Linked DNA regions of Homo sapiens. The protein of the gene in region 1 purifies or fractionates together with the protein of each later gene. This does not show direct contact. Each region holds a gene or a part of one and is shown in the gene's direction. Other genes may lie near its edges. The genes, in order: TMPRSS11B, PGAP6, POMGNT1, DCBLD2, NPC2, SEMA4F and SLC31A1.

Region 1 (3,500 bases):
ATTTATTAAAAAATATATAAAAAGTTAAATGAAAATTGATTCCAAATAATAAAACTGTGAGTGAAAAATATCATATTTGAATATGTTAAAATGAGAAAGATTGAAGGAAATGACAATTTAGGATAAGAAGAAAATATAAAACCAGGCTATATAAAATATATTTATTAAAGATAAAAACAGTTCTGCATCTTAAAAATTATTATTATTTTTTGCTTTAGAGGTGGGATGTTGCTATGTTGTGTGGGCTGGAGTGCAATTCACAGGTGCAATTACAGTGGACTATAGCCTGGAACTCTTGGGCTCAAGCAGTCCTCCTGCCTCAGCCTCCCAAGTAGCTGGGCCTATAGGAGCATATCGCTGTCCTGTTACATCTTTTAAATAAATTCTCTTTAGAGTATCATGTTTTCCACAAGATACATTTATGCATTCATTCACTCCATGGATATTTATGGAGTATCTTTTGTTCACATGGTGTCTTACAGACAGCAGTGCATATACTATGCAAGATGTAGACACCAATGAGGCAAAGCTCCTCCTTCAAGAATCTGCTTAGAGAGACAAGAGTTATAACACATAGACACAACAAAAAATAGTGGTTGAAAGATGCTTGAGACTGGAAAAGAGGATAAGTAAGAACCACTCAAACCAAGATAGAATACAGAAACATCACAGGAGTATCTTGTAGGAAAGAAACGTCATCAATTAGGAGAAGTTGAATAATCACTGAAAGGTTTCAAGTAATTTTTAATGATATATTTTTTTATAATGCGTAATCAAAGATACCTGCTCTCGTGTAAATAAATCCTTTCTCTAGGTTGTGGGAGACAAGTAGCCAACAGTATCATAACTGGCAACAAAATTGTGAATGGAAAAAGCTCCCTGGAGGGGGCATGGCCATGGCAGGCCAGCATGCAATGGAAAGGCCGTCACTACTGTGGAGCCTCTCTGATCAGCAGCAGGTGGCTATTATCTGCAGCTCACTGCTTTGCTAAGTAAGTTTGAAAATTTGACTAAATGAAGGATGCTAGGTGCAAAACTATTTTGGATAGTTTGTAGGGGTTAACTTAATGTGTCAAGGTTCACCAAGGCCATATGAAATTTACAATCACATAGAACATTTACAATCACCTGCGTAATTAAAGAGCAGGAAAGGAAATGCATTTAAATTAGAGAAAGGAGAGAAAAGCAAATAGAAGTATTAATTAACATTTTCCAAATAGGTACCTTGGCCTGACATTAAGTGCTTTACTTAACATCATTTCATTTAATCACAACATTCAATTCTGTATGGAAGGTATAGTTAAAACCATTTGAAGATGAGGAAACTAAGTCTCACTCAGGAAAGGTGACAAAACTTGGCTAAGATCACTCAGCTCTTTTTTTTTTTTTTTGAGATGGAGTCTCAATCTGTTGCCCAGGTTGGAGTGCAATGGTGCGATCTCAGCTCACTGCAAACTCTGCCTCCTGGGTTTAAGCGATTCTCCTGTCTCAGCCTCCTGAGTAGCTGGGATTACAGGCACGCACCACTATGTCCAGCTAATTCTTGTATTTTTAGTAGAGACGGGGTTTTACCATGTTAGTCAGGCTGGTCTCGAACTCCTGACCTTAAGTGATCCGCCTGCCTCAGCCTCCCAAAGTGCTGGGATTACAGGTGCGAGCCACCATGCCCAGCCTAGTTCTTAAATAATAGAAACTGAATGTGAATTCAAGTGTGTCTGACTCCAGTTACTAGGTGCTTCCTTGTCTTGCCATCCAGAAGTTTATAATCTAGTTGAGAAAATTTAAATGTCATATATTAAAAGTACGAGGCTGTATAGTATTGTAAACATGACACGTATTACAAAGATAGTAAGTACGATGGAAATTTGAAGAAAGACAGCATATCCATCTGACGTAAAATTTAATCTGGACCCAAAAATTGAGTATATCCAAAGGAAGATAAATTGTTCTACCAAAAAGCCATATGCACTTGTATGTACACCACAGCTCACAATAGCAAAAACATGAAATCAACCTAGATGCCCAGCAACGGTGAACTGGATAAAGAAAATATGGGTCATATACACCATGGAATACTATCCAGTCATAAAAAAGAATAAAATCATGGCCTTTGCAGGAACATGGATGCAGTTGCAGGCTATTATCCAAACTAAATGAATTAATGCTGGAACAGAAAACTAAATACCACATCTTCTTGCTTATAAGTGGGAGCTAAACACTGAGTACATATGGATACAAGGAGGGGAACAATAGACATTAGGGCCTACTTGAGGGTGGTAGAAGGGTGAGGGTAAAAAAAGTAGCTATTGAAACCAAGGGTATGTGGCAATAAGACTAATCCTGGACCCCATCCACTTACGGAATTGAGGACGCTCATGTGATTCCTGACCAAATTAAATGTTCAGAAACTGGATGGAACTGAATAAGCAGGGGAAAACATCAGTGACTCTACTTGAAAAGATCTTCAGAAAGCTGACAAATCTGAGTCCTTAGCATTATTTTTAAGTGACTGCAACATTTACAACAGCTCCATGTCAAAGATAGTTTTCAAAATAGAATTTCAGTGGTTTATAGTTTTGTTTGGGAACCTCATGCCTTAAAATTATGAGATAATCACCACTAAGAACAGTGTTGTGACCCAGCAACTGAGTGTATTCTAATTACATTGTGTCCTCTAGGAAAAATAATTCAAAAGATTGGACTGTCAACTTTGGAATTGTAGTAAATAAACCATATATGACACGGAAAGTCCAAAACATTATTTTTCATGAAAATTATAGCAGTCCTGGGCTTCATGATGATATTGCCCTTGTGCAGCTTGCTGAAGAAGTTTCTTTTACAGAGTACATTCGTAAGATTTGTCTTCCTGAAGCCAAAATGAAGCTCTCAGAAAATGACAATGTTGTAGTTACAGGTTGGGGAACACTTTATATGAATGGTAAGTTTTTTTGTAAAATCATAATAGCTGCATGGGAATAACTATTTAATCAATCAATCAATCAATCAATCAATCATCCCCTCATGCAATTAATCAATCAGTAAATATACTGAAAAGAAAACCAAGTGGTGGGACAAAAAGCATGATGTCAAATTGTCTTCACTTCCTAAAATATCTCTGGGAATGGGAATTGGAAAAATTGAAATTATGTGTTAGGCAGCCAACTATTACAAACACCTGAAAGAGACTAATCTAACCTGGGACTGGCCTGACTCTTGGTGACCAAGAGAGTCTGCTTTATGCTATAGGTAGATATTCTTTGTCCCAGCAAAGTCTAAGATCTGCATAATATGCAGCACTTATTGCTTTTAGGTTCATTTCCAGTGATACTTCAAGAAGACTTTTTGAAGATTATTGACAACAAAATTTGCAATGCCTCATATGCATACTCTGGCTTTGTGACTGATACAATGTTATGTGCTGGATTTATGTCAGGAGAAGCTGATGCATGTCAGGTATGTCTAGTTACATTATCCAGTTGTTTTCTCCCAGTTAATCAAAT
Region 2 (3,500 bases), on another chromosome or scaffold:
ACGGGGGGCTGGGGGTGAGAGCCTGAGTCCTCGCCTGGGGCCATGAGCAGGATGTCTCCCACGGGCCCTTCTCCATCCCCGCACCAGGCGTGGGTGCGTTCCCTGAGGACAGTTAGGAGCCTTGCCCGCTTGGAACGCAGAGGGCAGCTGTCCCCTTGTTCTCATGACTGGCCAGGCTTCTGGCCTGGGTCCCTCCCACATGCAGTATCTCCCTCTGGGTAAGGGGAATTTGGGCTCCGGTCTCGCCGTGTCCAAAGTCATCATAGCCCAAGCAGGCAGCCAACCCATCCAGGGATGGAGATGTGGGAGGCTGAGAGGAGGTGGGAGGACCGTGCCTTGATATCCAGGGCATCTGTGATGAGGGGCGGGGGCTCCTTCCTGACACCTGCTGGGTCCTTCGGCTTCGACCTGGGTTGGCCATGGGGAGTGTAGTCTTCTAAGGTTGGAGGGGGTCCGGGTGGCAGTGCGGGTGGGGATGGCAGTCAGAGTGGCGATGGCAGTGCGGGTGGCGATGGCAGTGTGGGTGGCGATGGCAGTGCGGGTGGGGATGGCAGTGTGGGTGGCGATGGCAGTGCGGGTGGCGATGGCAGTCAGGGTGGCGATGGCAGTGCGGGTGGGGATGGCAGTCAGAGTGGCGATGGCAGTGCGGGTGGCGATGGCAGTGCGGGTGGCGATGGCAGTGCGGGTGGCGATGGCAGTGTGGGTGGGGATGGCAGTGCGGGTGGGGATGGCAGTGCGGGTGGCGATGGCAGTCAGGGTGGCGATGGCAGTCAGGGTGGCGATGGCAGTGCGGGTGGGGATGGCAGTGCGGGTGGCGATGGCAGTCAGGGTGGCGATGGCTGCTGAGGTACCCTGCGGCTTGTTTGGAAGCTGCTGCAGTGAGGCGGCAGCTGTGAAAAGACCCAGATGCCAGGAGGGTGGGATGTAGGCCATCTGGGGAGGGACAGCAGAGGATCTGGCTGAGGGGCCAGAGGGTGTCGGTGACCTTTGCCAAGGTCAGAGTTGGTGTGCCAAGATCTCCAGGTGGGTCCCCGGGGGCTTCCAGCCCTTTCCATCTGGGGGACTCGTCCTCCCCATCTGCGGCCCTGGAGGAGGGTCCCGGCCTGGCTGACACCTCCTTCTCCTCACAGAGGTGGGGCTGGTGTCCGAGCACTTCTCGCAGGCCCCGCAGAGGCTGTCCTTCTACAGCTGGTACGGCAGTGCCAGGCTCTTCCGCTTCCGCGTGCCCCCAGATGCTGTGCTTCTACGCTGGCTCCTGCAGGTCTCCCGGGAGAGCGGCGCTGCCTGCACCGACGCGGAGATCACCGTGTAGGTGGCTGCCCGCCCGCCTGCCCACCCTCCCGCGCCTGGCCAAGCCCTGTGCCTGAACCCGGTGCTGCTCTCCCGTCTCCAGGCACTTCCGTTCCGGCGCCCCTCCGGTCATCAACCCGCTGGGCACCAGCTTCCCGGACGACACCGCGGTACAGCCCTCCTTCCAGGTCGGGGTGCCGCTGAGCACCACACCGAGAAGCAATGCCTCCGTCAACGTTTCCCACCCGGCCCCCGGGGACTGGTTCGTGGCCGCCCACCTGCCCCCCTCATCCCAGAAGATCGAGTTGAAGGTGAGGGGGGCTGCCCTCCGGGATGGAGGCAGAGAACCTTGCGGCGATGGCCTGTCCCTGCCGTTCACCTCTTTGGGGTGGTCCTCGCTCTAGGCTCCACGCTGCACTCTGGGGCCAGCCCTGCTCCCTGCATGCCGGGGGCGTCTGGTGAGACCATGCCCTCACACCTGCATTCTCTGACACCGCCCCCGCCCACACCTGTTCTTTCCCTAGGGCTTGGCTCCCACCTGTGCCTACGTCTTCCAGCCTGAACTGCTGGTCACGCGGGTGGTCGAGATTTCCATCATGGAGCCGGACGTGCCCCTTCCTCAGACCCTCCTCTCCCATCCCAGCTACCTCAAGTGAGCGGGGGCCTGGGGGGCAGCCCGGCTCTGCCCTCCGGCCCCTTCTCAGATTCGGTGGAGTGGGTGCGAGAGCCTGGCCCTGAGTCCTGGGGTTGGGCTGGGAAGTGGTCCAGATGCCTGGCCCCCACCAGAGTGGGCTGAGGAACAGCAGAGCCTGGGCACGCTGCGTCCCTGGGCTGAGGAATGGCAGAGCCTGAGCCAGCTGTGTCCCCTCGCTGCAGGGTCTTTGTCCCCGATTACACGCGGGAGCTTCTGCTGGAGCTGCGGGACTGCGTGTCCAATGGGAGCCTGGGCTGCCCCGTGCGTCTCACCGTGGGCCCGGTCACCCTGCCTAGCAACTTCCAGAAGGTGCTCACCTGCACCGGTGCCCCCTGGCCCTGCCGCCTGCTGCTGCCCTCACCGCCCTGGGACCGGTGGCTGCAAGTGACAGCTGAGAGCCTGGTGGGGCCCCTCGGGACAGTGGCTTTCAGTGCTGTAGCTGCCCTCACAGGTGGGCCGCACAAGGGCTGGAGGGATGGCCCTGCCCCTCCCCAGATCCCCAGACTTTCCTCCAGCCAAACCCCTTGTCCTCTCGGCAGCTTGCAGGCCACGGAGCGTGACCATCCAGCCCCTTCTGCAGAGCAGCCAAAACCAGAGCTTCAATGCCTCCTCTGGTCTGCTGTCCCCGAGCCCCGACCACCAGGACCTGGGCAGGAGTGGCAGGGTGGACCGCAGCCCCTTCTGCCTCACAAACTACCCAGTCACGCGGGAGGACATGGACGTGGTGTCGGTGCACTTCCAGCCCCTGGACAGGGTCTCGGTGAGGGTGTGTTCGGACACGCCCTCCGTGATGCGGCTGCGCCTGAACACCGGCATGGACAGCGGGGGTTCCCTCACCATCTCCCTGCGGGCCAACAAGGTACCTGCTGTCTGCAAGCGGCCTGTGGCCTGGGCTCGGGCAGGGCGCCGGGCAACCCCTGCAGCGCCTCCTCATTTACCTTGGCACGGGACAGGCGGCACAGTGACACCAGCAGGCACGGGCCAAGACAGGGGCCCATGTTGGGGGGCCTCCCCTGCTGGGCAGCCTTGTTCCTGTCAACAGGCCCCGGGGCTGTGGGGTAGCTCGGGTCAGAGGTGGGGTGGAGGCAGGATGTCCCAGGGCCCGGGGAGGAAGGTCCCGGTGCACCGTGGGCCTGCAGGAGTCTCAGAGAAAGGCACCAGCACCGGCCGGGCGCGGTGGCTCACGCCTGTAATCCCAGCACTTTGGGAGGCCGAGGAGGGTGGATCACGAGGTCAGGAGATTGGGACCATCCTGGCTAACACGGTGAAACCCCGTCTCTACTGAAAATACAAAAATTAGCCGGGCGTGGTGGCGGGCGCCTGTAGTCCCAGCTACTCGGGAGGCTGAGGCGGGAGAATGGCATGAACCCAGGGGCGGAGGTTGCAGTGAGCCGAGATCGCGGCACTGCCCTCCAGCCTGGGCGACAGAGCAAGACTCCATCTCAGAAAAAAAAAAAAAAAGAAAGGCACCAGCACCAGGCTGAGCTGGCACGTGGGGCAGATGACCCCACTGCGG
Region 3 (3,500 bases), on another chromosome or scaffold:
TAGAAAGAGAAGGCCCCTGCAAGGAGATGATATGTGAGCAGAAAGCTGAGGAATTGAGGAGTGAGCCAGGTGAGTATCTGGAGGAAGAGCATTCCAGGTGGAAAGAATGGCAAGTGCAAAGCCCCTATAGTGGGAAGGTACACGGCATATTTGAGGAACAGCAAAGATGCTAGTCGAGGTGGAGCAGAATAAGGGAGGAGAGTAGGAGAGTGGTTGGAAAAGAAGGCAGAGAGTGGCGGGAGAGAGAGGTGCAGATCGTGTGGGTTTGTGGAAAGGACTTATTAGCTGGATGACCTTAGAATCTCTAAGCCTTCAGTTATTATTTTATCTGTGAAAGAGAGTAACCATAGAGGGTTATTGCAATAATGTAATGAGCTATTTTAAGTAAAAGGTTGCTACATAGTTCGTGCTCTGTGAGGCCAGGTCTCCTGGAACCATGCCAGTCAGGCTAACTGCCTTCTCTGGTCCCCCAGGATGAGGGCTCCTTCCACCTCAAGGACACAGCCAAGGCTCTGCTGAGGAGCCTGGGCAGCCAGGCTGGCCCTGCCCTGGGCTGGAGGGACACATGGGCCTTCGTGGGACGAAAAGGAGGTGCCGGCATCAGAGGCCATCCACTCTGTAGTATCAAGAGCCTGGGAGGAGCAGAACCCTAGGAGATGGGGTGGGGTGGGGAACAAATAGGAGCCAGTGGCAGTGGGTTGGATGAAAGTAGGCAGGGAGATGGGAAAAAGCCCCCAAACTGGTGTCTGGGCCCCCATGGCCCTCATTCCTGCCTCCTGCCAGGTCCTGTCTTCGGGGAGAAACATTCTAAATCACCTGCCCTCTCTTCCTGGGGGGACCCAGTCCTGCTGAAGACAGATGTGCCATTGAGCTCAGCAGAAGGTGGAGTTAGTGGAGCATGGATGGGGCAGGGCCTGGGCTGGGGGTGGGCATTTAGATCTCTCTGTGGAGCTTTATTCCTTTGATTGTGTGCCTGGGGCTCTTCAAACCTTGCTGGCCCCATGCCTCCATGACAACCGCATCCTTCCCTCAGAGGCAGAGTGCCACTGGGCAGACACAGAGCTGAACCGTCGCCGCCGGCGCTTCTGCAGCAAAGTTGAGGGCTATGGAAGTGTATGCAGCTGCAAGGACCCCACACCCATCGAGTTCAGCCCTGACCCAGTGAGTGGGGCCTTAAGACAGTGAGGTTTGGACTCCTTCCCAGCTCAGCAGGGGGGCCCCAGGAATGATCTAGGTTGGGCTTTCCCTACCTGAGCCTGGGAGAGAACCAGGGGCAGGATTTACACTGCGCTCTGAAAGACAGGGCTGGGGTGAAGGGGCAGGCCATGTGAGTAAAGCTCAGCGCTAGAGTTGGGCTGAGTGTGTGGAGAGCCCAGAACAGGGAAGATCCTCTATCCCTTCCCTGTCTACTCCAGTCTGCACCTACCCTCACCTGAGAAGTCTTCCCTAGGTGGGGATCCCAGTTTGAAGGGGGAATAAGGCAAGAGCTAAACGCTATTTCTCCCACAGCTCCCAGACAACAAGGTCCTCAATGTGCCTGTGGCTGTCATTGCAGGGAACCGACCCAATTACCTGTACAGGTAAGCCTGGGAATGGGCTATACCCAGCACTGAACAGGAGGGTGCTTAGGTCATCTACCTCCAGGAGGAACTCTTGAGGTGGGCAGAAAGGCAATAGATTCTAGACGCATTCACCTCTGTGGGTAAGCATAGGGACTCTGGGCCCAGCTGTAAACACAGGGGAACCTGAGTTGAGGGGTGATGAAGTGACCCTAACCTATCCCTGGGCTCCCCAGGATGCTGCGCTCTCTGCTTTCAGCCCAGGGGGTGTCTCCTCAGATGATAACAGTTTTCATTGACGGCTACTATGAGGTGAGCAGGACTTGGGGGGTGCCTCGGGTGGAGTACAACATGGAGCAGCAGTGATTGCCAGGGACGGGCAAGGGAGACCGCCCAGGCAAGGGCTGTGAAATGTGAAGGCCTTGGATTGCAGAGGTGGGCAGAGGGAAAGTGACCTCACATGGTGAGCAGTGGCCATGTCCCCCAGGAACCCATGGATGTGGTGGCACTGTTTGGTCTGAGGGGCATCCAGCATACTCCCATCAGCATCAAGAATGCCCGCGTGTCTCAGGTACTGCATAGGCAAGTGGGGATGGGGCAGACACCTGGCTCTGCCTTCTACCCTAAAGCTCATGTGCCCTATTCCCACCCCACTCCCAGCACTACAAGGCCAGCCTCACTGCCACTTTCAACCTGTTTCCGGTGAGTACTAAGGATACAACTCTTGGGCCTGGGAGGGGGGAAACATGGGCATAAGGTCTGGGCCTGTTACGTGGCAAGCTCTTCCCCTCACTGGGCCTCATCCTTCACATCTGGAAAATGGGGGTAATGCTGCCTGCAAGAAGAGGGTTGGGGGCAAAGGAGATCACAGGATGGAGAGACCCCTTTGGGACCATGATGTCCCATTCCCCTTCTAGGAGGCCAAGTTTGCTGTGGTTCTGGAAGAGGACCTGGACATTGCTGTGGATTTTTTCAGGTGAGGGGAGTCTCTAGGTTTCAGTTGAGGTCCCTCAGTCTGCAGGGAAAGAGTCAGTGAGGTGTCCTAGAGAGCTTTCTGGAGGACATGAGCTCACAAGTGGGGGCGAAGCCTGGGCAAAGGTAGGATGGCAGGTGTTGGGGCTGCTGTTGAAGGTACAGTGGATGAATGGAGACAGTGGGGATTTGGGGGAAGGAGGTACTCCAGGAAGGAGGTGCTCCTGAGACCCAGCTCCAGCAATTCTAGCATCTCTGTGTGACTAGATTTATCCTTGTCCCTCCCTGAACTCTTTGACCCTGCCTCTCTCAGTTTCCTGAGCCAATCCATCCACCTACTGGAGGAGGATGACAGCCTGTACTGCATCTCTGCCTGGAATGACCAGGTAGGCTGGAATGACCAGGGTTTAGCAGGCGAGTTTATGAGGCCTCAGCTAATACCTCCCACTATGGCACCCTGTCCCCAGGGGTATGAACACACGGCTGAGGACCCAGCACTACTGTACCGTGTGGAGACCATGCCTGGGCTGGGCTGGGTGCTCAGGAGGTCCTTGTACAAGGAGGAGCTTGAGCCCAAGTGGCCTACACCGGAAAAGGTAACTGTCAGGGTAGGGTGAGGGGGCTGGAGTCCCCTACCAACTCGAAACATCTTAACCTTCATCGTGGTCCATGTCTGCCAGCTCTGGGATTGGGACATGTGGATGCGGATGCCTGAACAACGCCGGGGCCGAGAGTGCATCATCCCTGACGTTTCCCGATCCTACCACTTTGGCATCGTCGGCCTCAACATGAATGGCTACTTTCACGTGAGTGGGAGGCAGGGAGCAGGGCACAGTGTGGCATGACAGTCAAGAACAAGAACATGGACTCTGAAGCAATCTTAGCTCTGCTACTTGCTAGCCATGTAACCTTGGGGAAAGAGCTATCCTATTTTTGCCTCAGTTTCTTTATCTGAAAAATGAGGATAAA
Region 4 (3,500 bases), on another chromosome or scaffold:
AGGTATGCAAACATGGAAATGAACGCCTAGTACATAGTATTGTTTTGTTCTTAACTGAAGTTTTCACGGGCATTTTTAAACCTTCAGTTTATTTTCTTCCAACTATAGTTTTTAAGTATAGCAAAAAAAAAAATTTATTTTCTTTCATAGGAAAAGACTGCATTGATCTAAGTTGTAGTCTCTGCTGCCATGTAGAATTGCTCTTTAAATATTTAGAGAAGGCCACTGTGTTGCAGGCCTCCTCTTGTGATTTATTGTTCCTTACAGCTAAACATGTTGACTCTCAGGCTTAGAAATACAATATTTTCTAGAAATAACTGAAATCATAGCAGGAAACAAACTTGTTTCCCTTGATAATATATTAATTTGATGGATAGGGAACTTGATGGCAAAAAGGGGAAAATAAAAACAGAACTTTTAGTAGAAACTAGTAATTGTTAAAAAATACTCATAGTTAACATATTCATAAAAAAAAACTTTGGTCTCTTTTTAAGTGTTTGCAATTATATTTTTTAAGATCATAAATAGAAATTTATTAGAATTTACTTTCAAGTTTTGTTATCAGTGATAAATAAGGTCTCAAAATACATAAAACATAGTAGTCTTACTAGTTGTTGAAAAACAAAATTTCAATTGAATTCAAAAAAGTGTCAGTGTCATAGTAGACTAAGTATCAGAGTTGTCACATAAAAAGCTTCCTTGTTTTCAGGAAAGTGCAGAGAGAGAAAGCCGTTCATCCAAAGTAATTTGTGCCACATAGAACTTCAGTCATTCTCATTTTTTGAAAGTTTGCCTGGATTCAGATAACTTTCTCTGACTTTCCCCATGTTGGTTCTTTCCCATCTTCTGAAGTATTTTCACAAAGATGAATTACTTTCTCATGCTGCAGGTACAGCTAGAGAGAATCAAGGGTTCTCAGAGGCAGGAGATCTCAGCATCTTTTAACTGCTTACCAGTTGTCAGAAGGCATGTACTAAGGCAGAATCCCAGACCACATGCCTGGATGGAGATCAGTCACTGAAAAGTGTTGCTCATCTTAAAATCTGATTGCATCTCAGACCCTCAAGGCTAAAAAGAGTCCTTAAATAATTTCCTTCCAGAATTAGGATCCCTGTATGCCCAAAAAGAATAACAAAGAATGAGTTGGTCTTCTCAGAGACCTCCTGTCTCTTTTTTAGGGGGATGGTAGTATATAAATTTATTTTTTGAACCTAAGAAGATGTTTTAAAGCCTCTGATTAAATCACACAGCATCCATCTAAACTTGATTATCTTCTCTTGTCTCACTAATCTTATGGAAAAAGCACATTTACCGTTGTGAATTCTGAGTGCTTTCTAGTCTAAGTCATTATTTCTGTTTATGGACTTCTCCATTTTTACAGCCAGGCTGAGAGTGATTTCATGGAAAAGATTATGTCATGGTCAGATTTGTGCCTCTGTAGTTTCCAGGTCCTCCCTCAGTGGGGCCCGTGGCACCAGCTGGCTGACCTTCTGAAAGGCTGCAGTAGCTCTTCTGTCTGTTCTCAACTGTAGCTATTTTACATATTCCCCTTATTTTCAAGCCCTTCACCCAGATATCTTCACCCACTCTCAGTTACCGCTCCAACTTCACAGAGAAAGTAGGGAGTTTCCTTCCAGTGAAACTCCCTTTTTGTGGAGCCTACAAACCTATCTGTATCCTCTGTTCACTGCAGTGAAAAGGGGGCTTCCTTATGTTGCCCAAGGCTGATTATATCACCTGTGCCCTGGTTCCCCTCGATCTACCTCTCAGGGACCCAATCTTACTGATTATCCTCTCCCCCTCCTGTATCTTCAGCCTCTTTCTCTCTTTTGGATACAGTTGTTTTAAGGAATAAAGAAGATGGTGCAGGTTAGACTCATTGCAGTGTCCGGCTCTGAGCCCCCAGTAAATATCAGCAGGTGCTGCTATTATCATCTTCATGGCAAGTAGGGGGTTGAGCGACAAAGGAAGAAACTAATATCCCAAGTGACCTTAGGCAGATCATTTTCTATATCTGGGCCCAGAATTCCTTATCTCTGGAGTGAAATTAGGGGATTAAATGATCCCTAAATCTCTCCCAGTTCCAGCATTATGCTGGCTTCTGACCTGGTCACACACACATTTCCAATTGACTTTCTTAACACCACATTGTTACCTTCCCATATATATATATATGAATGTTTTGCCATTATGATGTAACGTCATTTCAATTGCTGGATTATTTTCTCTTGTAAGGAGGATACCATGATTTATTCCCTCTCATTTTTGGGCATTTGGATTATTTCCAATTTTTCACTCTTACGCAGAAACAGGGAGAACATCTTTAAGGATGCATCTTTTTTTAGTTTCTGAGAATAAATTCTAGGAATGGAATTGCCAATAGATTTTTGTACATATTGCCCAAAAATGCCAATCAGTGAGATAGCATCAGTTTATATTTCCATTAAAAAATAACTGTTTCCTGGTAGCCTGTTCATCAATTAGTTGTTGTTTTAAATATTTGCCACTTTGATTAGCAAAAGTAGTATTTTGTTGTTTTAACTTTTTTTGTGTTGGTTGTTTAACTTGTATTTCTTTGATTACTAGTGAAGTTAACATATTTAATGGTTACTTGTATTTTTTAATGTATTACTAGTTAATCTCTGCTGATTTTTCTCTTAAATGTTTGGATTTGGCTTGTAATGCCCTACAATATAATAATTATTTAAAGTAACTCTTCTCATATGTAGAAAATATATTTTCCCAATTTTTCATTTGTCTTTCAATTTTATTTTAGTGATTTAAAAATTTAGGAAAATTTCACATCTCTACACAGATGGAATGAATAGTGTAACAAGCTTTTGTGTATCTGCAAAAGCTTCTACAGTTACCACCACATGCCCAGTCTTGACAAATAATGTTTATGGTATTTCCGTGAGGTAGAAAAATGTTGAAAGATGATGTGGTTAATTTTCCCTAGTGATTTCTGCCTTTGGTGTTAATATGGCTTTTGTTTGTCTGTTTTTGTCTTTGTAACTTCAGATGTAGCGCTGGCTGCAGTTCTTGTCCCTGTGCTGGTCATGGTCCTCACTACTCTCATTCTCATATTAGTGTGTGCTTGGCACTGGAGAAACAGGTTAGTACATAACTAGTTCACCTGAGTCCAAAACTACCAAATGTGAAGTAGAAGCTAAATATAGAAGATGAAAATGTTTACCTGTTTGAGAGTGAGAGTTAAGGTAATTATTAAAATGAAAATTTCATGCTTCTCCTTTATTCCCATTAAAAATAAATAAGTTCAATTCCACAATCAGTTACTAAGTACCTTTTTTGTATCAAGTTCTGCATTATACACTGGGATATGTACATTAATATGAACAATTTCTGACACATGATAGTTACATTTACTTAAAGAATGAGACACAATTCCTTTCTCTGAAGTGTTTAGCAGGGTTGACTAACAAGGAACTATATCATGTGGTTTGATGAGTTATGAACCATGAGAATTAACTGAAGTTTTT
Region 5 (3,500 bases), on another chromosome or scaffold:
GTGTTGGTCAGTGTGATGATAGTTAAAGAGACTGTTCCACCCAAGGGTAGGTACAGGCAGCAAAGAACATCTACTTAGATTTCTGAGTTCATATCATACTTTTATAGTACTGAGCTAATCTGGTGACTGACTGCATAGCAGATAATGTACTCTCAACCTGCAGTTTGCCTCTGTCTTCATGCATTCCACTTTTGAGACAGAAAGAGTCCATCCTATTGGCTAGAAACATAATTTCTATCCACAAAGTATATTTGAGGTGAGAGGTCCAGTTTTTGTGTCAGAAGGGAACTTGCTAACCTACCCAGGAGCAGCTATTCTAGATTAAACTCATGGACTAAATCCAGATATGATAATAATAGTAAATATATGTATCACTATGTTCCAAACACTTACCTAAGATCTGTATTTGTGTTAGCTCAGCTACACCATTATCTCCAGAGAGGTAAAGTATCTTGCCTTGAGGCTATACAGTAAGTAGCAGAGATAGTGAGATTTCAAACCCAGGCATCCGGCACCAGAGTCTGCCTCTCAGCAATGATGGCTGAATGGCAGAACTTAACTTACCCTGTTACAGGCACTGTTATCAGGCAGTTCACCTGCATTCTCTCCCATTCAACTGCCCAGTCTCTGGGGCAGGAGGAAATGGGATTTTTAAAGGCTTTATTTAAACCTTTTTTGGTCAAGCATTTATTGTATACAAGTACTTTTGTCCTTGGTTAGACTGAGATTAAAATACATACATACACACACAGACACACACACACACACTTATTTTAAGAACGCAGGTTCCCAAAATCGAGTATACATCTGTAGATTGCAGATGTGTGCTTAAAATCAGTTTTTGAAACTACTTAGAAACAACCTGGACAAGTCAGATGAATCCAATTTCTTTTCTTAAATTTTTTAATTTTGAAAAATATGTATTTGTTTTGAGGATTCCCAGGGATAAATCCTATTTCTGACTCTTTCTAGTACCTTCTTAGGTCTCATCCTTATGTTTTTAACATATGCAGTATTTGCAAGTGTATCATTCCCAGCAGCTATATAGACCTAGGCCAAGTTAATATTTCAGAGGAAATGAAACCCAGACTCAGGTAGCAGTATTCTTCTTTAATGCAGCTGGCACTTCTGCCATCTTGGCTGTGTGAGTCAGTGCTATTTGGAGTTAAGCTTAACTTGTGCCCTAAGCTTGTACTGAAACTATAAAGACCTTAACCTCTGTACTCCTCTTCATCCCCTTGATTCTTGGAAAAAATCCAGATCTTAACAACCTTAGTCAAGATTTAAGGTACTTCCTGTTGTTTTTGGAGCCAAAATATTTCATGACTCATAAGTGGGCCTTAAAGAACAGGACTAAATCATTGAAGAAACTGCAGAAGTGCAGTGAAAATGGTGCAGTTCCCAATTCAGAAGTGGGAGGTAGTTCCTCTCTTAAGGGTCATTCCTAGTTCAGAGATGGTAGGTGGTTTTTCTGTTTAGGGTCACTCCTCTGTTCAGTGTTAAGTGGTAGTTCCTCTTAAATTCCATAGTCTGCTTACTCGGAAGTGAGTAGGCTTCTGGAATCAGTCTTATTTTATTTTATTTTATTTTTTGAGACAGAGTCTTGCTCTGTCACCCAGGCTGGAGTGCAGTGGCGCAATCTCGGCTCACTGCAACCTCTGCCTCCCCAGTTCAAGCGATTCTCCTGCCTCAGCCTCCTGAGTAGCTGGGATTACAGGTGAGCACCACCATACCTGGCTAATTTTTGTATTTTTATTAGAGACGAGGTTTCACCATGTTGGTCAGGCTGGTCTCGAACTCTTAACCTCTTGATCCACCTGCCTTGGCCTCCCAAAGTGCTGGGATTATAGGCATGAGCCACCATGCCCACCCTTGAATCAGCCTAATTTTAAAAGCCAAGACTGATATTCTGACACTTTTCATCGTTTTACCTATACCTTTAATAGTGCTGCTTATTTCTCTAGGAAGTCAAGTTGGGGTGAAAGAAAGAAGGGATTCCAGGAAGACAAAATACTGGGCAAAGGATTTACCAGCAGTTTGGGAGAAAGGGTACAAAATCTGGATAGAAGATACTTCATCACTGAAAATCACAGAGGATATAGGGGTTGAACCTCTACGATAGAAAGAGAATCATGGTGAGGGGCAAAGAGGCGATGCTGAATTAAGAAACCTGAAAAGTTGAGTTTGAGACAGACCTTCATCCAGAGTCCTCAAGTAGTTCTCAGATGCAAATTTCCTTGGGGTGTCCTTCCATTCATCAACATGGCTGCGTATTTAAAGCTTCTTTCAGGTTCCGGTAACAAGGGCTTCCAAGTCAGGCCCACCCATTGAGTCTTCGATCTGCCCCTTCCAGGCAATGTGACCTTGGACAAATCTCAGTAATCTTTGCTCTTCTGGTTTCTAACCCCTAAAACAAGGATGATAAATACCATTGTTGTGAGATGTTTTCTTCAGATGCCTCTGCTTTCCTTCATTCTTGCTAGTCAAGGTACAATTTCCATAGAGTCTAAAAATGAATGATTCAGGAACTAAAAACTCTTGAAGCCAGATTCAAGAAAGGTTCAGTCTGTTTTGGGATCTGGCAGACTTTCCAAGCAATAATAGCAGACTCCCTCAATCAGTGTTTGCTCATGTAGAACTTGAGGTAGAAAGATGTTGTAATTCATTTCTGATCTTCCTCCGCGGAGTTTCAGGCTCTACATTTGCTTTCTAGCTGTTTCCGCATAAAGTGCGGTTTTTGGCCAGGTGCGGTGGCTCATGCCTGTAATCCCAGGACTTTGGGAGGCCAAGGTGGGCAAATTGCTTGAGCCTAGGAGTTTGAGACCAGCCTGGGCAACATGGTGAAACCCTGTCTCTACAAAACACAAAAATTAGCCGGGTGTGGTGGTGCATGCCTATTGTTCTAGCTACTCAGGAGGATGGAGTAGGAGGATCACTTGAGCCTGGGACGGTTGAGGCTGCAGTGAGCTGAGATTGTGCCATTGCATCTAGCCTGGGTGACAGAGTGAGACCCTGTCTCAAAAAAAAAAAACAAAAAAAAACCACAAAAACAAAACAGGGAGGGTGCAATGACTCACGCCTGTAATCCTAGCACTTTGGGAGGCCTAGGCAGGCAGACCACGAGGTCAGGAGATCAAGACCATCCTGGCCAACATAGTGAAACCCTGTCTCTACTAAAATACAAAAACTTAGCCGGGCATGATGGCACTCGCCTGTAGTCCCAGCTACTCAGGAGGCTGAGGCAGGGAATGGTTTGAACCCGGGGGGTGGAGGTTGCAGTGAGCTGAGACTGTGCCACTGCACTCCAACCTGGTGACAGAGCAAGACTCCATCTCAAAAAAAAAAAAAATGTAGTTGTTCCTGTAGTGAACAACTTTCATCAGATTTACATGCTAATCTATATGCTAGAAAAAGAAAGGGAAAATAGGAATATTTTCATCCAAAGGAAGGTTGAAGCAAACGTCTTCAAGGTTTAAGTTTAAACTGTGACCCTTACCATT
Region 6 (3,500 bases), on another chromosome or scaffold:
TCTCTTCCAGAGGGGGCAGGCTCTCCCGCCTTTGGCTGCATGGCTCCCTGTGCGTTTCTCGGGGGTCATCTCATTTGACAAGGGATGAGTTGCTATCCCCCAGACCCCTCCATATATCCAGCTCCAACCTGTGAATTCCAGGGAGGGGGCTACTATCTCTGCTGTCTGTGCCTTCCGACCACAAGACATTCGGACAGTGCTGAATGGTCCCTTCAGAGAACTAAAACATGACTGCAACAGAGGACTGCCTGTCGTGGACAATGATGTGCCCCAGCCCAGACCTGGAGAGGTGAGGGGGCAGATCTTCATTCTAGGCCTGAAGTCAAGAGCTGCTATTAAGGCAAGAGCCCCACTAAGCATCACTGGCATGTCCTGTTCCTGGGAAACTTTGTCACCAGCCCTGTATTTCCTCTAGTGCATCACCAACAACATGAAGCTCCGGCACTTTGGCTCATCTCTCTCCCTGCCTGACCGCGTACTCACCTTCATCCGGGACCACCCACTCATGGACAGGCCAGTGTTTCCAGCTGATGGCCACCCCCTGCTGGTCACTACAGATACAGCCTATCTCAGAGTCGTGGCCCACAGGGTGACCAGCCTCTCAGGGAAAGAGTATGATGTGCTCTACCTGGGGACAGGTATATTTAATGGTCAAGCAGGCTGCCTACCTAGTGCATACACATTCTCGTCACAGAGAGGGTACTGTAATACATATAGGTCTGAGTCCCAGGCACAGGGGCAATTATGTAATTATTCTTGTTCCTTTCCTGTCCCCTAGAGGATGGACACCTCCACCGAGCAGTGCGGATCGGAGCTCAGCTCAGCGTTCTTGAAGATCTGGCCTTATTCCCAGAGCCACAGCCAGTTGAGAACATGAAATTGTACCACGTGAGTTGTAGATTTTGGAGAGTCTATTGGGGAGACATCTGAGTCCAGAGCCAGTTTGTGACCCTGAGGTCTGGGAGATCCAGTGTATTCCCCTTCCCCACTCCGTTTTTATAGAGCTGGCTCCTGGTTGGCTCCCGTACTGAGGTGACACAAGTGAATACAACCAACTGTGGCCGTCTCCAGAGCTGCTCAGAGTGCATCCTGGCCCAGGACCCAGTCTGTGCCTGGAGCTTCCGGCTGGATGAGTGTGTGGCCCATGCCGGGGAGCACCGAGGGTGAGTGTAGCTGCCTGGATTTCTTGCTTACTGTGCCAGGGCTCTGTCCCATCCATATGTCTACGTTTCTCATCTGTTAATGCTGCCCTGCCGGAGGCTGTTTTCTTTTTCTGTCTGTTAGTGTCTACATCACTCGTGTGTCCTTCTGTCAGTCCATACTAGCTCATCTGTTTGTCCATCTAGTGCTACCTCATCAATGTCCTTGCCTCTCTGCTGGACCTGCCTTGACCTGACAGTGTGCCATCTCTAGTGGATGCTGCTTAGTTTTCATCTTACAAGAGCTCTTGGAAGTGTTTTCACAGTTGTCCACTCCCTCTTTCCTTGAAATACTTTCCTCTTGCTCTCTATGACTGCATTCTTTGGTCTCCTTTACTTTCCCATCCAACAACTGAATGTTGATATTCCTCAGGGTTCAGTCCTGGACCCATTCTCTTCACACGTTCATGCACTCTCTAGGCAGTTTCATTCTGGTTACTTTCAATACCATCTGAGTGCTAATGACAACCACAAATATATCTAGTTGAGCTGTGGAACTCCCCATCCGACTGTCTACTTGATATTCCCTTGGATGCTTCATAAGCAACTCAAACTTAGCAAGTCAAAGTATGCACTGTTGTTTCCTCTTTCTCTCACATGCTCCTCCTCTGGTCTTCCTCATTCCAGTAAAGGGACCTCCATGCATCCAGTTGCTCAAGCCAGAAATTGCCCACATCGTATTATGATTTGTACTGATTCTAGCACCCAAATGTCCTTAGTCCACCCTCTTCTGTCCACCTCTACCACTACCACTCTAGTCCAAGCCATCATCGCTTCTTAACTGGACTACTCTAATAACCTAATTGGTCTTTTTTTGACCATTTTGGGCTCCTACCATCCATTTTCCATTTAGCAGCTTAAAAGCATATGTCACGTTGAAGCAAATCCCTGACATTATATCATATTCATCTTAAATATTTCAATATGTATCTCTACTAGATAAGGAGTTTTTTGTTTGTTTGTTTGTTGTTTTTGAGATGGAGTCTCACTCTGTCGCCCAGGCTGGGGTACAGTGACGCCATCTCGGCTCACTGCAACCTCTGCCTCCCTTATTCAAGCGATTCTCCTGCCTCAGCCTCCCGAATAGCTGGGATTACAGGTGCCCGCCACCATGCCCGGCTGATTTTTGTATTTTTGGTAGAGACGGGGTTTCACTACGTTGGCCAGGCTGGTCTGGAACTCCTGACCTCAAGCAATCCACTTGCCTTGGCCTCCCAAAGTGCTGGGATTACAGGTGTGAGCCACTGCGCCCAGCCCAGGACTCTTAAAAACATTTTATTGTGGGAAAGTTCAATCATATCCAAAAGTAGAGAGAATTGTATAATGAATTTCCATGCATCCATCCCTCAGCTTCAACAACCATCAGCTCCTGGTCAATCTTGCCTCATCAGTACGTTTACTCATTCCCAACTACTTTGATGCAAATCCTGGACATCATTTCACTTCATCCATAAATCTTTCTGTCCGTATCTCTAACATACAAGGGCTTTAAAAAAAAACCATATTACCATTATCATACCAAAAACTTACTTTCTTAATGTCATCAAATATCCAGTCAGTGTTCTGATTTCTTCAATTGCATATATTTTAAAAAGTTTATGTCAGTATCCAAATAATGCTTATTAATTGTAATTGGTTGATATGTTTCTTAAGTGTATTTTAATTGTTGAGATCTTCCAGTAAAGTATTTTTAATCACTTGATTCGAAAGTGTTTTTGCAAACTGACCTTGAGATTTCCTATTTTGAAGTCCAGTTAATTTATAGCATATTTGTATACTACAGAACCTCAAGTATATACAAAATCCAGAATATTACAAAACCCCATGGCTACAAATTCTGTAGAGGTAAAAGTACTTGTCTTTTGGAATAAAACAGATTAATTCACACATGTCAAAACAGAGTGAAATGTTTAAAATGGTAACTGATCTGTAGGGCTAGATATGAAAGAAAAAACTGGCATATAATTAGAATAGTCATAACATTTAATTTTGTTTTTCTGATATTTGTCATGAATTATAAGTGTAAAATCTTATGCCGTCTCTTGATCAGATTCTTGACTTTTTGCCAGTTGGGGATATAAAGTAACTCTTGGATGACAGGCTTGGCCAGCTTTGCATTTTTGGTTAAGAACTTTAACCTGGTCTTTTAGTTTTTTGGGGGAGAACTTTTAAACATCTAAGAGAAAAGCAAGGGCTTTATTCTGTCCTTTATTGTTTTAATTTCCATTAAAATAAGAATTCACTGGTCTTAGATATCCTCTATACTTGAGCCTCAAGGATTCCCTTAAGGTATACATGAGT
Region 7 (3,500 bases), on another chromosome or scaffold:
CTAAAAATAAAAAAAAGAGATAAGATTTTTATATCCTTAAATTATTATATATAATTCTTTCTCTTAAAAGAATCTTCTGCTGACTCTCAACTTTTCCTGGAAAAAATGGATCATTCCCACCATATGGGGATGAGCTATATGGACTCCAACAGTACCATGCAACCTTCTCACCATCACCCAACCACTTCAGCCTCACACTCCCATGGTGGAGGAGACAGCAGCATGATGATGATGGTGAGTGCCATAGGAGGGGCAATGCAGGCCCTTTCCCACCCACTTGGGTAATAGAAATAATGGAATTTTAGTACTGGAAGCTTATTATCTTTAAAGGTCAGTTTACCAGTGAGGATAACTAAAGCAGACCCAAGCAAGTCAAGTCATTTGCTCCAGATTATGTGGCAAGCTACTTACAGAGTCACACCAGAACCAAGATTTTAGGCTTCTTTCTTTGGTGGTCCCTTCTGAAATCGACTCTTTTCTGAATTAGGGGTTCTGGTCTTTATGCCTTGGGTGGAAAAGAGAAAAAGACAAAAGTTGGCCAGGCACAGTGGCTCATGCCTGTAATCCCAACACTTTGGGAGGCCAAGGCAGGTGGATCACAAGGTCAGGAGATCGAGACCATCCTAGCTAACACGGTGAAACCCCATCTCTACTAAAAATACAAAAAATTAGCTGGGCATGATGGCATTCGCCTGTAGTCCCAGCTACTTGGGAGGCTGAGGCAGGAGAATCGCTTGAACCCAGGAGGTGGAGGTTGTAGTGAGCCGAGATCTCGCCACTGCATTCCAGCCTGGGCTACAGAGCGAGAATCCGTATCAAAAAAAAAAAAAAAAAAGATAAAAGTTGATGGTGGGGGCCCAGGAGAAAAGTTGATGGTGGGGGCCTAGTAGAATACTCATGCTCGGTGCCTGTGGTGGTAACGCTAACATGAGGGCAAAAGCCTCCCACTCACGTGAATGTCTCTTATTATCCAGATCTTCTACTTTTAAATGTTCTAAGCTTCTTTGCCCCAAATTCTCATTTAGAATTTTCATTCATCTCTAACTGACTTGTTTTGGTTTTCTGGCAGCCTATGACCTTCTACTTTGGCTTTAAGAATGTGGAACTACTGTTTTCCGGTTTGGTGATCAATACAGCTGGAGGTGAGTAAGCCATTAGGTAGTGTTGGAAGGTGATAGTCACATGAGAGACAGTGACAAATAATTTGGAAGTCCAGCACCTCTTTCTGTCCTAATTACTAAGTCAACATGGTAATGATGCATAACCATCTTGGTTCCTATTTCCTACCTAGAAGGTAGGAAACACAGTACTTTTTTGGTCCTCTGGTAAACCTCTGTTAACTAACATGTATGTTTTGGAGCTCTAAAAAATAATTTAGATACCAGATAGAATCTTTTGCAATCCATTTTCTTTCATTCTTTTCCAGAGTGTTTAATTTTTTTTTTTTTTTTTTTTTTTGAGACGGAGTTTCACTCTTGTCACCCAGGCTGGAGTGCAATGGCAGCTATCTTGGCTCACTGCAATCTCTGCCTCCCAGGTTCAAGCGATTCTCCTGCCTCAGCCTCCTGAGTAGCTGGAGTTAAACAGGCACCTACCGCCATGCCTGGCTAATTTTTGTATTTTTAATAGAGACGGGGTTTTGCCATGTTTGCCAGGCTGGTCTCGAACTCCTCACCTCAAGTGATCCACCCACCTCAGCCTCCCAAAGTGCTGGGATTACAGGCATGAGCCACCATGCCCGGCCTCAGAGTGTTTACTTATTTGATAAGTTATTAGTCCTGGACATAAGACTAACTCAAATTAAGTACCACAAAATAAGTTTAAAACTATTGTTCTAATACTTCAATTTTACAATAAATTAAGTGCCACAAATTGTGAAATGACTCGCCATCAATCATAGAGTTAATATGTCAGAGCTAGGACAAGGACCCAGACCTTCTAGAGCTACCTAGACCAGTGTTCTTTTAGTCTACCAAACTATGGCCCACATCCTTCCTGATTCTTGGCACGGCCCATCTTAGACACTCCTAGTTTTGAGGTAGATGATTACCCATCTGTTTGTGTCTATTATGTTGTATGGTATACTTTAAATTTAACTTGCGCAAACTCAATAGTCAGTTGGACTGCCTTAGGTACCAGATGTCTGTTTGGAGCCATAAAATCAATTTGTTTTGGGAAGAAGGAGAGCATTTAGTTCAGGTAATGTGTTAAATTAGCAGTTTGAATACATTTATATCATTACCAACACTTCACAGTGTGAAAGACTTAGAATTGAAATGCCTATTCAGGAAATGTAGTCAGCCACTGATGAAACTAAATTGTTTTATTCCCTGTTCCATATTCTACATTGTGTGTTTCAGTGTAACAAACCTAATTTAATGATATCAAGCAGTCTGACCAAAAGGTTATTGTTGTTCTGATTATTTTTCTTATCTTAATCAGAAAGTAAATATGTTCTTGGCAGAGGCAATAGTTTTCAGTTACACCATCTTAGCCGTTCTCCTATCTGAGCAAGAGAAGAGGTAAAAATATAATGTCTTCAAAAGCTGAGAGTAGCATTTTTTCTATGTGTCTTTCTAGCTGGACAGCACATTGGCTAATGATTTTGCACATGTTTGACAGTACCTCCATATTTTCCTTCCATACTTAGAAATGGCTGGAGCTTTTGTGGCAGTGTTTTTACTAGCAATGTTCTATGAAGGACTCAAGATAGCCCGAGAGAGCCTGCTGCGTAAGTCACAAGTCAGCATTCGCTACAATTCCATGCCTGTCCCAGGACCAAATGGAACCATCCTTATGGAGACACACAAAACTGTTGGGTAAGAACTGAACAGATCCAGATGAAGTCCTAAAGAACTCGATCAGTTAAGCAGCAAAGCGCAGCTGTGTGATCAGCAGCAGCCCTCTTCTTGAGTTAGGAGTTCTGTATGACCTTGATCAAAACTGTCCTTGGAGGTTTGGGTTTGTAGGTCATGAGCAGGCCAAAGGAGGAATGAGAGGGAGTCTTCTGCAAATATGAATGTTTGTTCTGAGTTGTACGGATTGGCCACTTTGGAAGAAGGGAAGTGAGGAATCCATATTTTAAAATATTTACCAAAATAATAATGAACAAGTTAAGAAATTCAGATCAAGATATAAAAGAATGGCAGATTGCAGTTGATTCTATAAAGTTACACCTAGTCAGCCCTGTCCTCTTTTTCTTTACAATGTAAGACTGTATTGATTTCTGTGTTCTGTCTAAGAAAGTATTTGGATGATTATTGGTTTTTCCCATAGATTGGCAAATGTTTTTTGAGATTGTTTTAATAAAAATGTAAGTCTTAAAACCAAATTGGACCTTAAGAAATCCTATAGACTGATATCCTGCTTTCAAACAAGCAGTGTTATTTATTGTACTGATGAGCTTACTGGGGCCCAGAAGGATTGTGACCTACCTAAGGTGGCACAGGGGATGAGTAGCCAGGTCTCCTTATCCCTAATTAAGTAATTTCTTCTATACT

What was found.
Region 2: the proteins of TMPRSS11B (region 1) and PGAP6 purify together in Homo sapiens (affinity purification with mass spectrometry; 2 studies listed by BioGRID and IntAct, with this or other methods). This does not show direct contact.
Region 3: the proteins of TMPRSS11B (region 1) and POMGNT1 purify together in Homo sapiens (affinity purification with mass spectrometry; 2 studies listed by BioGRID and IntAct, with this or other methods). This does not show direct contact.
Region 4: the proteins of TMPRSS11B (region 1) and DCBLD2 purify together in Homo sapiens (affinity purification with mass spectrometry; 2 studies listed by BioGRID and IntAct, with this or other methods). This does not show direct contact.
Region 5: the proteins of TMPRSS11B (region 1) and NPC2 purify together in Homo sapiens (affinity purification with mass spectrometry; 2 studies listed by BioGRID and IntAct, with this or other methods). This does not show direct contact.
Region 6: the proteins of TMPRSS11B (region 1) and SEMA4F purify together in Homo sapiens (affinity purification with mass spectrometry; 2 studies listed by BioGRID and IntAct, with this or other methods). This does not show direct contact.
Region 7: the proteins of TMPRSS11B (region 1) and SLC31A1 purify together in Homo sapiens (affinity purification with mass spectrometry; 2 studies listed by BioGRID and IntAct, with this or other methods). This does not show direct contact.

Annotation. Positions count from the first base shown.
Region 1 is NC_000004.12:68,228,695-68,232,194, reverse strand, and holds part of TMPRSS11B (transmembrane protease serine 11B), read left to right. Parts: intron 1-814; coding exon 815-992; intron 993-2,678; coding exon 2,679-2,938; intron 2,939-3,310; coding exon 3,311-3,453; intron 3,454-3,500. UniProt on the Homo sapiens protein: Serine protease.
Region 2 is NC_000016.10:375,479-378,978, reverse strand, and holds part of PGAP6 (post-GPI attachment to proteins factor 6 precursor), read left to right. Parts: intron 1-1,130; coding exon 1,131-1,308; intron 1,309-1,393; coding exon 1,394-1,601; intron 1,602-1,814; coding exon 1,815-1,942; intron 1,943-2,166; coding exon 2,167-2,435; intron 2,436-2,523; coding exon 2,524-2,843; intron 2,844-3,500. UniProt on the Homo sapiens protein: Involved in the lipid remodeling steps of GPI-anchor maturation. Lipid remodeling steps consist in the generation of 2 saturated fatty chains at the sn-2 position of GPI-anchor proteins (GPI-AP).
Region 3 is NC_000001.11:46,191,935-46,195,434, reverse strand, and holds part of POMGNT1 (protein O-linked-mannose beta-1,2-N-acetylglucosaminyltransferase 1), read left to right. Parts: intron 1-473; coding exon 474-591; intron 592-783; coding exon 784-882; intron 883-1,033; coding exon 1,034-1,161; intron 1,162-1,509; coding exon 1,510-1,580; intron 1,581-1,795; coding exon 1,796-1,871; intron 1,872-2,046; coding exon 2,047-2,130; intron 2,131-2,219; coding exon 2,220-2,261; intron 2,262-2,476; coding exon 2,477-2,535; intron 2,536-2,844; coding exon 2,845-2,917; intron 2,918-2,998; coding exon 2,999-3,127; intron 3,128-3,211; coding exon 3,212-3,337; intron 3,338-3,500. UniProt on the Homo sapiens protein: Participates in O-mannosyl glycosylation by catalyzing the addition of N-acetylglucosamine to O-linked mannose on glycoproteins.
Region 4 is NC_000003.12:98,807,696-98,811,195, reverse strand, and holds part of DCBLD2 (discoidin, CUB and LCCL domain-containing protein 2 precursor), read left to right. Parts: coding exon 1-2; intron 3-3,021; coding exon 3,022-3,115; intron 3,116-3,500.
Region 5 is NC_000014.9:74,486,806-74,490,305, reverse strand, and holds part of NPC2 (NPC intracellular cholesterol transporter 2 isoform 2 precursor), read left to right. Parts: intron 1-3,500. UniProt on the Homo sapiens protein: Intracellular cholesterol transporter which acts in concert with NPC1 and plays an important role in the egress of cholesterol from the lysosomal compartment.
Region 6 is NC_000002.12:74,674,747-74,678,246, forward strand, and holds part of SEMA4F (semaphorin-4F isoform 1 precursor), read left to right. Parts: intron 1-141; coding exon 142-289; intron 290-415; coding exon 416-638; intron 639-778; coding exon 779-888; intron 889-1,002; coding exon 1,003-1,163; intron 1,164-3,500. UniProt on the Homo sapiens protein: Probable cell surface receptor that regulates oligodendroglial precursor cell migration. Might also regulate differentiation of oligodendroglial precursor cells. Has growth cone collapse activity against retinal ganglion-cell axons.
Region 7 is NC_000009.12:113,256,044-113,259,543, forward strand, and holds part of SLC31A1 (high affinity copper uptake protein 1), read left to right. Parts: intron 1-70; 5' UTR 71-105; coding exon 106-234; intron 235-411; exon of another isoform or gene 412-560; intron 561-1,069; coding exon 1,070-1,142; intron 1,143-2,650; coding exon 2,651-2,819; intron 2,820-3,500.